4 linked regions of the Homo sapiens genome follow. The protein of the gene in region 2 purifies or fractionates together with the protein of the main gene of each other region. This does not show direct contact. Each region holds a gene or a part of one and is shown on either strand. Other genes may lie near its edges.

Region 1 (3,500 bases), on a different chromosome or scaffold from region 2:
CACTGCAGCCTCAAACTCCTGGGCTCAAGAGATCCCCTTAACCCACCATAACCAGCCTGCTAATTCTTTTCTATGCATTTATCTAATTTTTGTACTTTTAGTAGAGACACGGTTTCACCATGGTGGCCAGGATGGTCTCGATCTCTTGACCTTGTGATCTGCCCGCCTCGGCCTCCCAAAGTGCTGGGATTACAGATGTGAGCCACCGCGCCCAGCCAATTTACATATTTTTAGAATTAGGAGCAATTAACATTGCTTACAACTTGGGAGGCCTAGGCAGGCAGATTGTTTGAGCCCAAGAGTTTGAGACAAGCCTGGGCAACAGGACAGAACTCGTCTCTACCAAAAAAAGATACAAAAATTACGTGGGCCTGGTGGTGCACATCTGCAGTCCCAGCCAGTTGGGCGGCTGAGGCAGGAGGATCACTTGAGCCCGGGAGGTCAAGGCTGTAGTTGAGCCAAGATCACGCCACTGCACTCCAGCCTAGGCAACAGTGACACCTATTTCAAAAAAACAAAAAGCATTGCTAATGAAGCGGAACATGCCGTGTTTTTATAAGAAGCTCCTCGGCTGGACACCCTTTCATTAAAAAACTCCCTTCTGACTCCCAGTGAGAACTGGCCTCCAAGCCTGAGGATAAATGGCATCATTTCCACAAACACACAAACTGATTTTTACTTTAAAAACTATCTTCTCTCTAAGCACGATTGGGGGCATGCGTTAATATAAAGGCTGACATCTCCTTATGGCAAAGAATCAAATGACAAACACGACTGCGGTCCCCGAGAACAGCGTCCCCCCAGAGCAGGCCCGCCGCGCACCCACCTTTCTTCCCAGCCTTGCATCTTCAGAACCTTCAAGGACTCGTTCAGGACCATCCGCATGAGCTTTGACACAGAAGGAGGTTGGCATTAGCAGAAGCCCAGCCCTACTTCGCCAGACCACCCATCCCCATGTACCACCATCCGCTGCAGGATAAAGTCATGGCCGTGGTGACCTCTGCCGGCCCCAGCACACAGCCGGCCCCCAGAGCTGCTGACAGACAGACGCTGGAGGACACACCACCAAGCCCTCAGAACCCTGGGCTGAGAACATGCCCTATCCCCGGCTCCAAGGCCCCAGCTGGCAGGAAGCAGGTGCATGGGGGGTCGGGGGTAATAGGGGACAGTCCTACGACTCCAGTCCATAAACCGGGGCTGAAACGGAACAGTCCGATTCATAAGGGAGAACCAGGAAAGAGGCACGGCTACCCCCACGGGCGGTGGAGCCCTCCGCAAAACCAGGTCTGAAACACGGCTGGTCCTCACCAAACCCCCCGCAACGGGCAGAATGTAGCTCACTTCCTCTGCGGTCCACTACACAGCGAAGGCCCTCCCGCCAAGCCTCACCCGTGAATCAACAATGCCATTTCCCTCCATGGGGCTCAACACCCTTCTGCAGTTGTCCCCCCTTTAGGCTACTGACCCAGCATGCCCACACGCCCAGAGTGGGGTCTGAGCTGCAGTCAGTAGCAGCAGAGGACACGCGGACCCCCAGGAGCCCCGATGACAGAGCACAGCCCAGCAGCCCGGACACTGTTCTTGCAGACACAGGAGGCCTATCCCCCACAACACCCTGCGGTGCCACCGAGGCTAGCCCTGACGCAAGGCTGTGCTGCTGGACTCAGCCACACAAGGGGCACCCAGAAACGAGCCATGGAAAGCAGCAGAACGCATCCATCCAGGGACCCAGCAGCCACATCTCAGCAAAACAGTAGGGTGGCCTCCCTGCAGAGCCCCATTGTCCCTAAGAGTCTGCACTCTGTCTGAGTGCATGGCCGGGCCCCTGGCCTGCCCTGGAGCCTCCTTCCTTCTTGAGCTCCAGGCCTTTCCCGCCCTGGTCTCCACTTCTAGAATCACTGGTATATATGCTGTCTGCACAATCCTGGCCCGAATCTGAGCTGGACACTGAAGCCAGAGTGGCAGATCAACATCTGTCCTCAGTGAGACCCGGACATGGCCCCTTTCAGTGTCCCCATTGGGTGACCGACTCCTACACAGTGACAATGTCCCTGTATCTCAGGCCTGCTCTAAGGTTACAATGACCACCACCTTAGTAACGAGACCTCATGGTTCAACAAGAGGGAAGGAGGGAAGGAGAGAAGCAGGTCCGGGCAGCAACACGCTGCACCTCTAAACCCCAGTGTTCCCCTGTATTCTCAGGGCAAATCAGTGCCCTGAACGGGGATACAATGAGGGAGGAGGGAAAGGAAGTCCCACACTGTGACCATCCATCCCAGCCTCGCAGGCTAAGCACTCCAGGGCTCATGCTAGGGCGTGACCGCAGCTCCTCTGCTGCGCCTCCAGACTCACTCTGCCTCTTTGACAAGGTAACAACGGTGTCACCATCGACTCTCACCAGGAGAGCAATCGTCACTTTCCTTCTCTGAACCAAAAGTTTGTGTGGTGTTTTAAGGGTCGAATTCCTTGCCCATTCAATGACCCTCAGAGACTGGACAAAGCTGCAGAGCCCTGGTCAGGGACCGCCCAGAGTCTCGGCTCCACCTCCCACCCCTGGCTTCAGGGTCGCACTGCCTCAGGTTGCCTCCCTGCCCAGGTGCCGCCTGTCTCGCTTGGCCAGGCACTGAGACCCGCGCTGCCCCCGCCCGCCGGCACCCTGGTGGCTGCCTCACCATGTAGAATTTATCCAGGCGCAGCCTGTCAATGCCCGTCCACTCGCGATTCATGGTCTGCCAGAAGGCCTGAAGGAACAGGTGCTCTGGAGAAGGAATAAGCCAGAAGAGAACCACTGAGGAGCACGAAGCCACTCTGGGGAGGGAGGTGAGAACATGGAGGAACCCGTTCTTTACATAGCTATAGATAAAAAATGCTGATGCCCAGGCCCTACCCCCAGAACTGGATCTTGCTGGACCAGGATCTGGACATGAGGATTTTTAGAGGCTCCTCAAGTGAGTCCTACAGACAGGCAGGGTAAGAACTTCTCAACTCCGGTCACCAGAGAACAGAGGAGTCAGAAAAATCAACTGCAGGAACCTCAGGACCATCAGGCGGAATTCAGTCCAATCTCTTGGTGACATTATCCTGGCTTTTCACTTTATTTTTAAAGTGTAAGATATTAGCCCATTAGGCTCGAAATGAGGGTTTTGGGTAAATGAGCTAATCCATGTTGAATACTTACACCAGCACTGCACACATGCTAAGCACCCACAGACACCAGCTGGCGCTCTCTTGCCCTTAGGCATTCCTTACTCTGGATTTGAGAACACAAACCTCCTGGGTCTGGTGGCTCTGATGCTCAGAGGTTCTGACATCTACAAATGCACCCAACTACAGCAGAGCATACTCACGCGCCTCCGTGGTCTGAAAAGCATGAACGAGCTGGGAAATAGTCCTTCCTAATTCTTCCTGTGTAGGAAACAACAAAAACGCCCTCAGCCCCTGAAGCACCAGGCTCTCACAATGACACACACGCAACCACCCACTCACCCACTCACTCACTC
Region 2 (3,500 bases):
TGACAGGGTGGATTTGTCCCAGAGCTGGAGATGAATTACCTGCATGGAAAACAGAGGAGTTACCAACTCCAGGGAAACAAAAGACATTACTGAGAAAAGAAAGGTAGGCCAGGTGTGGTGGCTCATGCCTGTTCTCCAATCACTTTGGGAGACCAAGGCAGGTGGATCATTTGAGGTCAGGAGTTCGAGACCAGCCTGGCCAATATGGTGAAACCCTGTCTTCACTGAAAATACAAAAATTAGCTGGGTGTGGTGGTGCATGCCTGTAATCTCAGCTACTTGAGAAGCTGAGGCAGGAGAATCACTTGAAACCAGGAGACAGAGGTTGCAGCGAGCTAAGATTGTGCCACTGCACTCCAGCCTGGGCCACAGAGTGAGACTCGGTCTCCCCCCCCAAAAAAAAAGAAAGAAAAAAAAAAGAAAGGAAAAGAAAGGTAATCATAGGACATGTACAGCAGCTCAGCTGTGGGCAATATTTATATTGTCATAAATAAATGAGCCATCTGAGTCAACAAATAAGGTGGAGATGTGGAATTATTCCTTCTGTAAAAGAGTTTACTCACTGTGAGAGCCATTAGACCATTGTCAGTGAGCAAAGGCAAAAACAGGCTTTCTAGGAGAGAGCAAGGAGAAGGGGAAGAACAAAACTGCAGAGGAGTTGACATTCTGGAGCAGAGCCGGCAGCCAGCAGGTCTATCTTGACTCCAACTGAAAACGCACCCCTCCTTCACCGGGGGCCGGGGGAGGGGAAGCTGCATGCATGCAGATAGTGACGTCCAAGTTAAGTTCTCACCTTAGAAAGTGGGGAATCAATCCAGAGCGTCTAAAATGGACAAGTCAAGGACCAGCAGGGGGAGTGGACCAGATTCTGAGCCACTTTGGGGATGAGCCTGGGGAAAGCCACAGGGCAGCCCTGCTTGGAACCCTGGGCTGTGAGTCATGGGGCTGGTACTCCTTGCTGTGTGACCTTGGGCACGACTTCTGCTCTTGGACACCCAGCGTCCTCCCCTGTAAGATGAGGATGCTGTTGCTTACTCACAGAATCACTGTGAGCAGCATATGCATGGCAGGTGCCTAGTATGGTATTGAGCACGTTAGTAAAGACAACCCCCTGAGCTGCTGCCCTTATTAATATTGCCATTTCTTATGATAAGGAGTGCTGTGCTGGACAAGGCCTACACCTGGATCGAGACAACAAAAATTTTAGGGGCCAATTCCTGTTGGCGTGAGCCAACTCCCTCTTTTCCTCCTTGGTGGGGAGGTGTCTGTGCAGGAGTGAAGGAGCAGGGTTGGGGCGATGGGTGGGCTCCTCATTCTTGCCCTTTACAATTTCACCAAGAAAACCTGTAGATGTGACTGAAAGAGAAGGAACAGTAAAAGCTTGGCAGATAGGAGGAATTTCTTATCAAGTTTTGTTTTTGTTTTTGTTTTTGTTTTTTTGGTTTTTTCGAGACGGAGTCTGGCACTGCCACCCAGGCTGGAGTGCAGTGGCACCATCTCGGCTCACTGCAAGCTCCACCTCCTGGGTTCACGTCATTCTCCTGCCTCAGCCTCCAGAGTAGCTGGCACTACAGGTGCCCACCACCACGCCTGGCTAATTTTTTTGTATTTTTAGTAGAGACAGGGTTTCACCGTGTTAGCCAGGATGGTCTCGATCTCCTGACCTCCTGATCCACCCGCCTCGGCCTCCCAAAGTGCTGGGATTACAGGCGTGAGCCACAGAGCCCGGCCTTTCTCATCCAGTCTTTCAAGCAAACACTGACTGCAAACTTGGGCTGGGGGCTATGAGTTGAGCTCACCAGTGGGGTAGGGGCAGGAGAGGATTCCAGCGTGCAGAGATAGGGTGTGTGCCCCGATAAGGCTGCAGCCTGAGACCTGAGGGATGTGCATGGGAATGGATGGTGACCTTACAACCTGGCTTCTGCTAACTGGGAAGGAGAAGGAGGAAGAAATGGAGGAGGAAAAGAAGGATGAGGAAGAGGAGGCAGAAGAGGAGAAGAAGGGAAAAAGAAGAGAGATGAGGAAGACAGGGAAGAGAAGGAGAGAAGGAAGGAGGAGGAGGAAAAGATGGCTTTTGGTTTCTGTGAGCTGTATATGCTTTTTCCCCGGGCTATTTTGAAATACTGAAAATGGCTCTAAGACCCCCCTGCCTGCTCCCACCTCCACTCAGAATGAACCTTCAGAGATGTTCAAGGTTGAGAGTCCACCATCTCCATGCCTTTTTTTTTTTTTTTTTTTTTTGAGATGGAGTTTCACTCTTGTTCCCCAGGCTGGAGTGCAGTGGTGAGATCTCGGCTCACTGCAACCTCTGCCTTCCGAGTTCAAGCAATTCTTCTGCCTCAGCCTCCCAAGTAGCTGGGATTACAGGTGTGTGCCCCTACACCCGGCTAATTTTTGTATTTTTAGTAGATGAGGTTTCTCCATGTTGGTCAGGCTGATCTCGAACCCCTGACCTCAGGTGATCTGCCTGCCTCAGCCTCCCAAAGTGCTGGGATTACAGGCGTGAGCCACCACGCCCGGCCTCCCATGCTGGTTCTAAAGGAAGAAGAACTTAGTTAGGTCCTGGGAAAACTGGTCAAGTCACCTTCTCAGTTTTCTGTTTGTGAAATGGGGACAGCCACTTCTACCCATCATAATTTTCACCTCCTGCCAGCTCATGTTGAAAACGGATTCGCCATGGTTCAGTGACCCAGAGTGTGCCGGAGTGAAGTGCCCGTGGTGGGGAAAGCACGGCTGAGTCATCTTGGGAAGGACTCTGGCTGTGCACAACCTCAGTTTTCCTGACCTGTAAAATGGACACTCTAGACTTTCTTTTGTAGATCTTCTCAAGGGTGTGTACATGACAAGCATGTAACTGGCCCAAGACATGGCTGCTGCTACTGGTATAATAACTACCAGTAGTGATATAAATAGTATGAAATATAATGGGTTAATAGTTATCATTTTATAATAATTTATAATAATGTAAAATAATTTTAATATTAGTGATAATTAACATTTTCTTTTGTAGAGACAGGGTCTTGCTCTGTCTCTACAAAATTACAGTGGTGCAATCATAGCTCACTGCAGCCTTGAACTCCTGGGTTCAAGTGATTCTTTCCCCTCAGCTTCCCAATTAGCTAAGACAACAGCTGTGAGCCCCTGTGCCCAGCCAATGATAATCATTAATAATGATAGTAGCATCAAATTAGTGCTCTGGGCTGGGGGAACTACCCCCAGAACCTGAACTCCCAGAACCCACTGCTGGGTGACATTTCTTGTTGGTAATGTGACATTTCAGGGTATAGCCATTCTGCCTCCCCGTACTGTCTCATTTGTCTCTGAATCCAGTGCCTTCCAAGATAGCAGGCACACAGCAGGTGCTGGATAAATGCTAATCAGTAGCTGGATATAGTTGTACTCAGTAAAGACTTGCGGAAGGAAAAGCAAGCCGCATTCTTGCACTGTGCTGATAGACAGCTGGGCAGGGATCATACTGAGTTTCAGCAGCAGCTCCCTCC
Region 3 (3,926 bases), on a different chromosome or scaffold from region 2:
TCTAAGTAGCTTTAAAAAAAAGAAGGAAAAAAAAAAAAGCCTAAGCAAGAAGAAGCTCCCACCCAGACTAACCTTCAACATTAAGGGGAAAAAAAAAAAAACAAAAAACGAAAAGCACTACTCAGAGTAAAACATCTTAGGGAGCTTTAAAAAAAAGAAAAAGCAAGTAACTATAAGGCTAAAAGTTGTTACCTTCTATCCAAGACATAAAATGTATGTTTAATTCTTCTTAAAAGGATAGCTACCAACAAAACTAAACTTGTCTGGAAAGTAGGTTGTTTTTTCTAAAGGCATCAGAGCAGCAGAAATACAAAATAAAGAGATGTATTTTTTCTTTTTTAATCTTAAATAACATGAATAACACTTTTTTTATTTTTATTTTGTTGAGACGGAGTCTGGCTCTGTTGCCCAGGCTGGAGAGCAGTGGCCTGATCTAGGCTCACTGAAACCTACACTTCCTGGGATTCAAGCGATTCTTCTGCCTCAGCCTCCCGAGTAGTTGGGACTACAAGCACGCCCCACCACAGCCGGTTAATTTTTATACTTTCAGTAGAGACGGGGTTTCACCATATTGGCCAGGCTGGTCTTGAACTCCTGACCTCATGATCCGCCCGCCTAGGCCCCCCAAAGTGTCGGGATTACAGGCGTGAACCACCGTGCCCAGCCACATGAAGAATACTTTAAACATACAGATATTTTTCTTTTTTCAACCTTTTCCCATATATGGTCAATTTCATTACATCCATCTTATTTCCCACCTTCACCACAAACCATTTCCATCTTTGTGCCCAAAACTTTATTGTAGGAGTTAAAAAAACCCCTATTCAAGAGACCTATATTCTTCTACAAAACCTTCAAGTGTGTTCAGTCATTTTCACTGAAAGAGATCAACAGGGAAGTAGCTTGACACTGTCCCCCAGAAGTTCCTTTACCATGCCTCCACACCTCCCAAACTACTCCCTATTTTCACCTCCGAAAAACACTCAAATTTTCCACTAATGCAATCTGACCTAATGAATCAAAGCCTGCCCATCTCTTCTTCTACCCCTTTCTTTCAAGCAGAAAGCTCTAACCTTCAATAAGAGAATAATAAAGCAGAAGCAAGGAGGAGGCAAAACATGATTCTTTCCCTTCCAGTAACTAGCCATACCCCATTCCCCCAAATAAGCACTCCACAACTCTACCCTTTAAAATGGTTATCAAACATGGCCGGGTCCAGTGGCGCACGCCTGTAATCCCAGCACTTTGGGAGGCCAAGGCGAGCGGATCACCTGAAGTCAGGAGTTCGAGACCAGCCTCGCCAACAAGGCGAAACCCCATCTCTACTAAAAATACAAAAATTAGCTGGGCGTGGTGGCGCGCGCCGGTAGTTCCAGCTACTCGGGAGGCTGAGGCAGGAGAATCGCTTGAACCCGGGAGGCGGAGGTTGCAGTGAGCCGAAATCCAGCCACTGCACTCCAGCCTGGGAGACACAGCGAGACATTGTTTCAAAAAAAAAAGGTTATAAAACAAAATGTTGATACATCTGTTACCTCTTTCAAGCCTCCCAATAACATTTCTACTAACACCACCCAAAATATTTTTAAAAGACAGGTCTCTCATTCTTTTCGGTCCCTCATACTACACCCCAATTATCTTCAGGTGTCCTCTCAATCTTACAAAAACATTTACAAAACTGTCCTCTCAATGGCACAAGAATACTTACAAATCTCTTATTCTTTCTACCGCTCCTTTTATTCCTCCAACACCACCTGTATCTAAAAATCCCTACATACTGTTAGGTATACTCCTCCACCAATTAATGCTGCATACCAGTGTAGCCCTTTCAACCTTCAACTAAACTTACAGAAACCTCTTTTTTCCAACCTCTATGTATCTAAAAGTCATCAGTTCCCCTAGCACTATCAAGCCCTCAATAATACTTTAAAATCCCTTAATATCCTTGCTATCACACTTATCACCTCCCCAATAATTTCTAAAACCCTTCAATGCCCACACATCCTTTTCATCTACTCCATAGTATTTTTCAAATCCTTCAATATTCTTGATCCCTCAGAACTTACCAATAATCGCTATACAGTTTCAATGTCCCTGCTATCCGCTTCTGCCCTCATATTTCGAAAATGCCCTCGATATTTTGCTTCTAGACCTTTCAGTCCCGGAATAATAATGTTTATCAAACCCTTGATATTCTGCTATTCCCTTCGACATCTCAATATTCACATTTTAAAAATCCCTCAAGAGCCCCGTTACCTCTCTCTCAGTTCTCAAACAGCAATGTTTTAAATTCCCTCACGGCCCCTGCTACCCCTTCCAGCACCCCGATATTTGCGTTTGAAAAGCCTTCGCTGTCCTTGCCTGCCCCCCCAGTCCCCATATTCACGGCGCCTCTCCGTCCCCAGCGCTCCTCTCCCACCCTCACCCCCACCACAATGGTGATAGTACTACAGGGAAGGCGTCGCCGGGACCTCCCGGCCGCGGCCCCTCAGCGCCGCCCCCCACGCCACCTCCCCTCCCCCACGCCCCCGCGAGCCCCCAACGCCCACGTTCGCCGGCCCCGGCCCAGCCCGGCTCACTCACATCGGCTCCAGTAACTTGGCCAGCCAGGACTTGAGGGCATCCACATCCTCTATGAGCATGGTGCAGGGAAGGCGGGCTCGGCCGCCGCTCTTCTTCAGGCCTGCCGTGGGTCTCCACTACGCCGCCCCCTCACGTTCCCTTCACAGCTCCCGGTGCCCCAGCCCACCGGGCATCTTAGGAGACTTCAACCTACTCCCCCGGCCGGGGCCTAACAGGAACTAACCCAAGAGCCCTCACTCAACCTAGCCCGAAGGCTGAGGTGGGCGGGAGACAGTGCCGAGTGGCAGGCCTGAGAACCAGTAAGAGAGAGGGGGCCCTGAGGGCAAGACCAATGAAAAGGCTCGCTCGCCCCGCCGGCAGGCGGTACCCAGTCAGGGAGGAGAGATATAGCAAGGTAGGTGGAGAGCTTAAGTGAACTCCTGGTGCAAGATGGTATCTTGGAAAAGGTGCTTTGCCTCTTAAAGGGGCAGCGGCGCCTTTTTTTGACCACGCCGCCGCCCGCCGCGGAATACCGGTGTCTGCTGCTGGGAGTGCCTGGGGGAACCCGGCGAGCCCCTCAGCCTGGTTCCTTCCTCTCGTTTTTCTTGGAAACACACACTCGTGTCCCGAAATGACTCAGCTGTAGTAAATCTGCAACACAACGTGCAATACGTTCACGTTCGACACATTGCACAGAATGCAAAATTTTACTTTTTTTCTTTACACACTCATGTTGATTGGCACTCACGTTTGTATTTTCTGCTGCTCTGCTTTAATTACGCAGAATGTTTCTGACAACCATGCCTTGGAATCCAGTAATCGTCATTTTTAAAACGTGGCGCACGGATGTAAAAGGCTGAGGCCATTTCAATTTTGCTAGTACTATTAATAAATGTTGCTTTATTTAGGAAGAAAAATGACTCCAATAGTTTGTTTTTAATTATCTTTTCATTGTATATCTAAAATTCAGTGGTTGGGGGACGGGAAGGGAGAATTTTAATCAGCAAAGAAGGATTACAAAAAAATTTTTAAGACAAATTAGAAACTACTGAAATAGTCAACTTACTTTCTAGTAGGTGAGAAATTCTTTCTGGAGTTTTGAAATCACTGATTTAGCACTGATGTTAAAATGTTTACCCAATAACATATACTGAGTCCCTGCAATTGCCAGCACTGAGTAAGGCACTAGGAGTCCAATGCTGAGCAAAACAGAGCTTCTCCTCTTAAGATGATGAACAGTTTATGGGGTTATGCATTGTAATAACATTTTGAAAAATACCTAATGAGCACGCACCTCATATAAAAGAAATGGATCAACCTCAAATAAACAGACATCCTATATATACATAGAACAGGTATAGGCAAAC
Region 4 (2,821 bases), on a different chromosome or scaffold from region 2:
GAGGTGGATCATGTATTTAAGGGACGGAACTCATTTTGATTGATACTGACTCTAATTGTATTTATTTATGAAACAGAGTCTCGCTCTGTTGCTCAGGCTGGAGTGCAGTGGTGCAATATCGGCTCACTGCAACCTCCACCTCCCAGGTTCAAGAGATCCTCCTGCCTCAGCCTCCCGAGTAGCTGGGATTACAGGCATGTGCCATCACACCCGGCTAATTTTTGTATTTTTAGTAGAAACAGGGTTTCCCCATGTTGGCCAGGCACGGTCTTGAACTCCTGACCTCAGGTTATCTGCCTCGGCCTCCCCAAGTGCTGGGATTACAAGCGTGAGCCACCAAGCCCAGCCTAAACCGACTCTAATTTAAAAGGGCATGTACTATTCAAAGCTTTGAAACTTCTCAGGAGAAAACGAGGACCCGTCTCTATTTAGGGAGTCTGTCCTAAGAGATTCCCCATCCCCCCCGCCTGGAGCCAAGGATCAGAAAATGAGGCATCAGCGACTGACAGGACAAGGTTTATTGGGGGTCCTGGAAACACTGGGGAGAGGGACGAGGGGGCAAGGTCGAGGCTCACAGGGGCACCCCCTAGCCAAATGCCCCCTTCCCCTAGGGATTGGGAGGAAGACAGAGACAGACAAACCAACAGAGATGGAGAGAAAGACCAACGGATGCTACGGAGAGAGGGAAGGAAACCCCAGTGTCCACCACCTCCCACTCAGATGAGTTCACAGGATAAAGAATTGCGTGGACCGGTCCACACGCTACAGGAAAAGAGAGGAGTGTCCGCCCTATTCACTCTAAGGAAGGTGGCAGGCCACAGCCTAGACCAGCCCATTCCATGTGATGGGGGTGTGTGCACATAGATCAGTCCATTCTACTGGGCAAGGGGATTTCAGGCCAGTCTATTCTAGTGTTTGGGGCGGGGAAGATCGTTAGGGTCGATCCATTCCACAGTCGGGGAGGGGGGATTCGAGGGCAGGGGGCATCTACCCTGGTCCCTCTTTCAGCACAGGGAATGAAAAAGGGGAAAGGCAGATTTCGGCTATATCCATTTTCTGGGGTCACCAGTGACTCTGGTGGGTGGCATTTGGAGGGATCTAGGAAAATTCAGGGACATGCTCCCTCCACATTCTCCAGATCAAGGTCGTTAGGAATGATGGCTCTCAGGGAATGGGGCAGTCTTCCCTTGGTGGGGGTGGGTGCCCATCTTTTAGTATTAGGGCTCTCAAGATGAGAGGTACTTGTGGAGACCCATTGCTCACTGCAAAGTCCCCATGTCTTGGGGACTTACGGCTACCCACACTCATTCCAGGGACCTCAGGCTCAGGAGTCTCTCCCTAGATTTGGGCTCCCCTGCCCCAGCTAAGGACCCTGTTTGTTTGTGGTCCCCCAGCTCCGGGGCCTTTGTGGGTTTTTGGTGGCCCCCACCTCTCCAGTCAGGGTCCCCTCATTTCAGGGCCTGCGTCTGGATTTGGATTTGGAGGGCCGGGGCCTCACGCGCAGTCCCGAGGTCCCCTGGTCCAGGCCGAGTCCAGGAGGCTGGGTGGAGGGCAGGGCGCACGCAGCCTGGCAGTCAGTCCATGCCCCGGTGCAGCTTCAGGTGCCTGGAGAGGTTGCTGAGCGTGATGAAGCCCTTGCCGCAGATGTGGCAAGGGAAGGGCCGCTCGGTGCCGTGCAGCAGCCGGTGGCGCTTGAGGTAGCACTCGTGGCGGAAGAACTTGCCGCACTCCAGGCACGGGAACGGCTTCTCGCCAGTGTGCACCAGCACGTGCCGCTCCAGGTCTCGCGGTGAGCGGAACAGCTTCTCGCACTCGGAGCAGCCGAAGATCTTCTTGCCGCGGCCGGAGCCAGACGGGGGTTCCCCGGACGCCGGTTCCCTTTCCCGGGCGGCGGTCGCCGCCTCCTCCCCGCCGCCCTCACCGTGGCTGACCCGCCGGTGCTCCTCCAAGGCGGCCAGCGCCGCGTACAGAGCCCCGCAGTGGCCGCAGCCGTAGGTGGCCGGGCCCGAGTGGGCCTCCAGGTGACTGGCCAGGGCCGCGGCCGACGCAAAGAAGGTCCCGCAGTCGCACTGGTACAGGGTGTCTTCCGAGGGCTCGGCGGCCGCCGCAGGTGCAGGCGCCTCCCCACCGCCCTCGGGGAGCAGCCCCCCGAGCTTGGGCACGCCGCCCCCCGCGGGGCCCAGGAGCAGCCTGCGGTCCGAAGCCAGAGGAGCGTCGCCCGCCTCCGCAGCGGTGCCTTCGCCCGCCGTCTCGGGCCCTGCGCCTGGCCCCGCGGCCCAGGCCTGCGCTGGGGGCGCGCCCGGGCCCTGCAGGTCGTGCGTCAGCTTGTGCCGCTCCAGCAGCGCGGGCGCGTTGAAGTCGCGCTCGCAGCGCGGGCACTTGAAGGGCTTCACGTCGGTGTGCGCCGCCCAGTGGGCCGCCAGCTCGCGGCCGTGGTCGAAGCGCCGCGCGCAGGCGCCGCACGCAAATGGGGGCAAGGAGGCCGCGGCCGCAGCTGCCGCCTCTGCCAGCCCCCAGCTGCCCAGACCCGCGCCTGCCCCCTCGGGGCCCTCTCCGCCGCCGGCCCCTGAGCCCCCGCACACCGAGCAGGGCCCCACATTGCAGCAGACGGAGCAGGGCGCACTCAAGGCGGGCAGGCCAGGGCCGGGCTGCAGGGGAGAGGGGAGAACCCCACGGTGCTGGCGCTTGAGGTGGCGGCCCAGGCTGGAGCGTGAGGAGAAGCGGAGCTCGCAGACCAGGCAGCAGTAGGGTTTCTCACCAGTGTGGACGACCTAGGGGTGCGGGAGGAAGGGCACAACGTCAGGGCTGAGAACCTAGCCCG

Evidence for each region.
Region 1: the proteins of TNFRSF13B (region 2) and RRP1 purify together in Homo sapiens (co-immunoprecipitation; 3 studies listed by BioGRID and IntAct, with this or other methods). This does not show direct contact.
Region 3: the proteins of TNFRSF13B (region 2) and RBM27 purify together in Homo sapiens (co-immunoprecipitation; 3 studies listed by BioGRID and IntAct, with this or other methods). This does not show direct contact.
Region 4: the proteins of TNFRSF13B (region 2) and FIZ1 purify together in Homo sapiens (co-immunoprecipitation; 3 studies listed by BioGRID and IntAct, with this or other methods). This does not show direct contact.

What each region holds. Positions count from the first base shown.
Region 1 is NC_000021.9:43,792,577-43,796,076, reverse strand, and holds part of RRP1 (ribosomal RNA processing protein 1 homolog A), read right to left. Parts: intron 3,406-3,500; coding exon 3,348-3,405; intron 2,759-3,347; coding exon 2,673-2,758; intron 889-2,672; coding exon 827-888; intron 1-826. UniProt on the Homo sapiens protein: Plays a critical role in the generation of 28S rRNA.
Region 2 is NC_000017.11:16,962,119-16,965,618, forward strand, and holds part of TNFRSF13B (tumor necrosis factor receptor superfamily member 13B), read right to left. Parts: intron 1-3,500. UniProt on the Homo sapiens protein: Receptor for TNFSF13/APRIL and TNFSF13B/TALL1/BAFF/BLYS that binds both ligands with similar high affinity. Mediates calcineurin-dependent activation of NF-AT, as well as activation of NF-kappa-B and AP-1.
Region 3 is NC_000005.10:146,202,479-146,206,404, reverse strand, and holds the start of RBM27 (RNA-binding protein 27), read right to left. Parts: upstream 2,801-3,926; 5' UTR 2,640-2,800; coding exon 2,581-2,639; intron 1-2,580. Other genes in the region: RBM27-POU4F3, read right to left, coding at 2,581-2,639. UniProt on the Homo sapiens protein: May be involved in the turnover of nuclear polyadenylated (pA+) RNA.
Region 4 is NC_000019.10:55,590,876-55,593,696, forward strand, and holds the end of FIZ1 (flt3-interacting zinc finger protein 1), read right to left. Parts: intron 2,772-2,821; coding exon 1,575-2,771; 3' UTR 501-1,574; downstream 1-500. UniProt on the Homo sapiens protein: May be a transcriptional repressor of NRL function in photoreceptors. Does not repress CRX-mediated transactivation.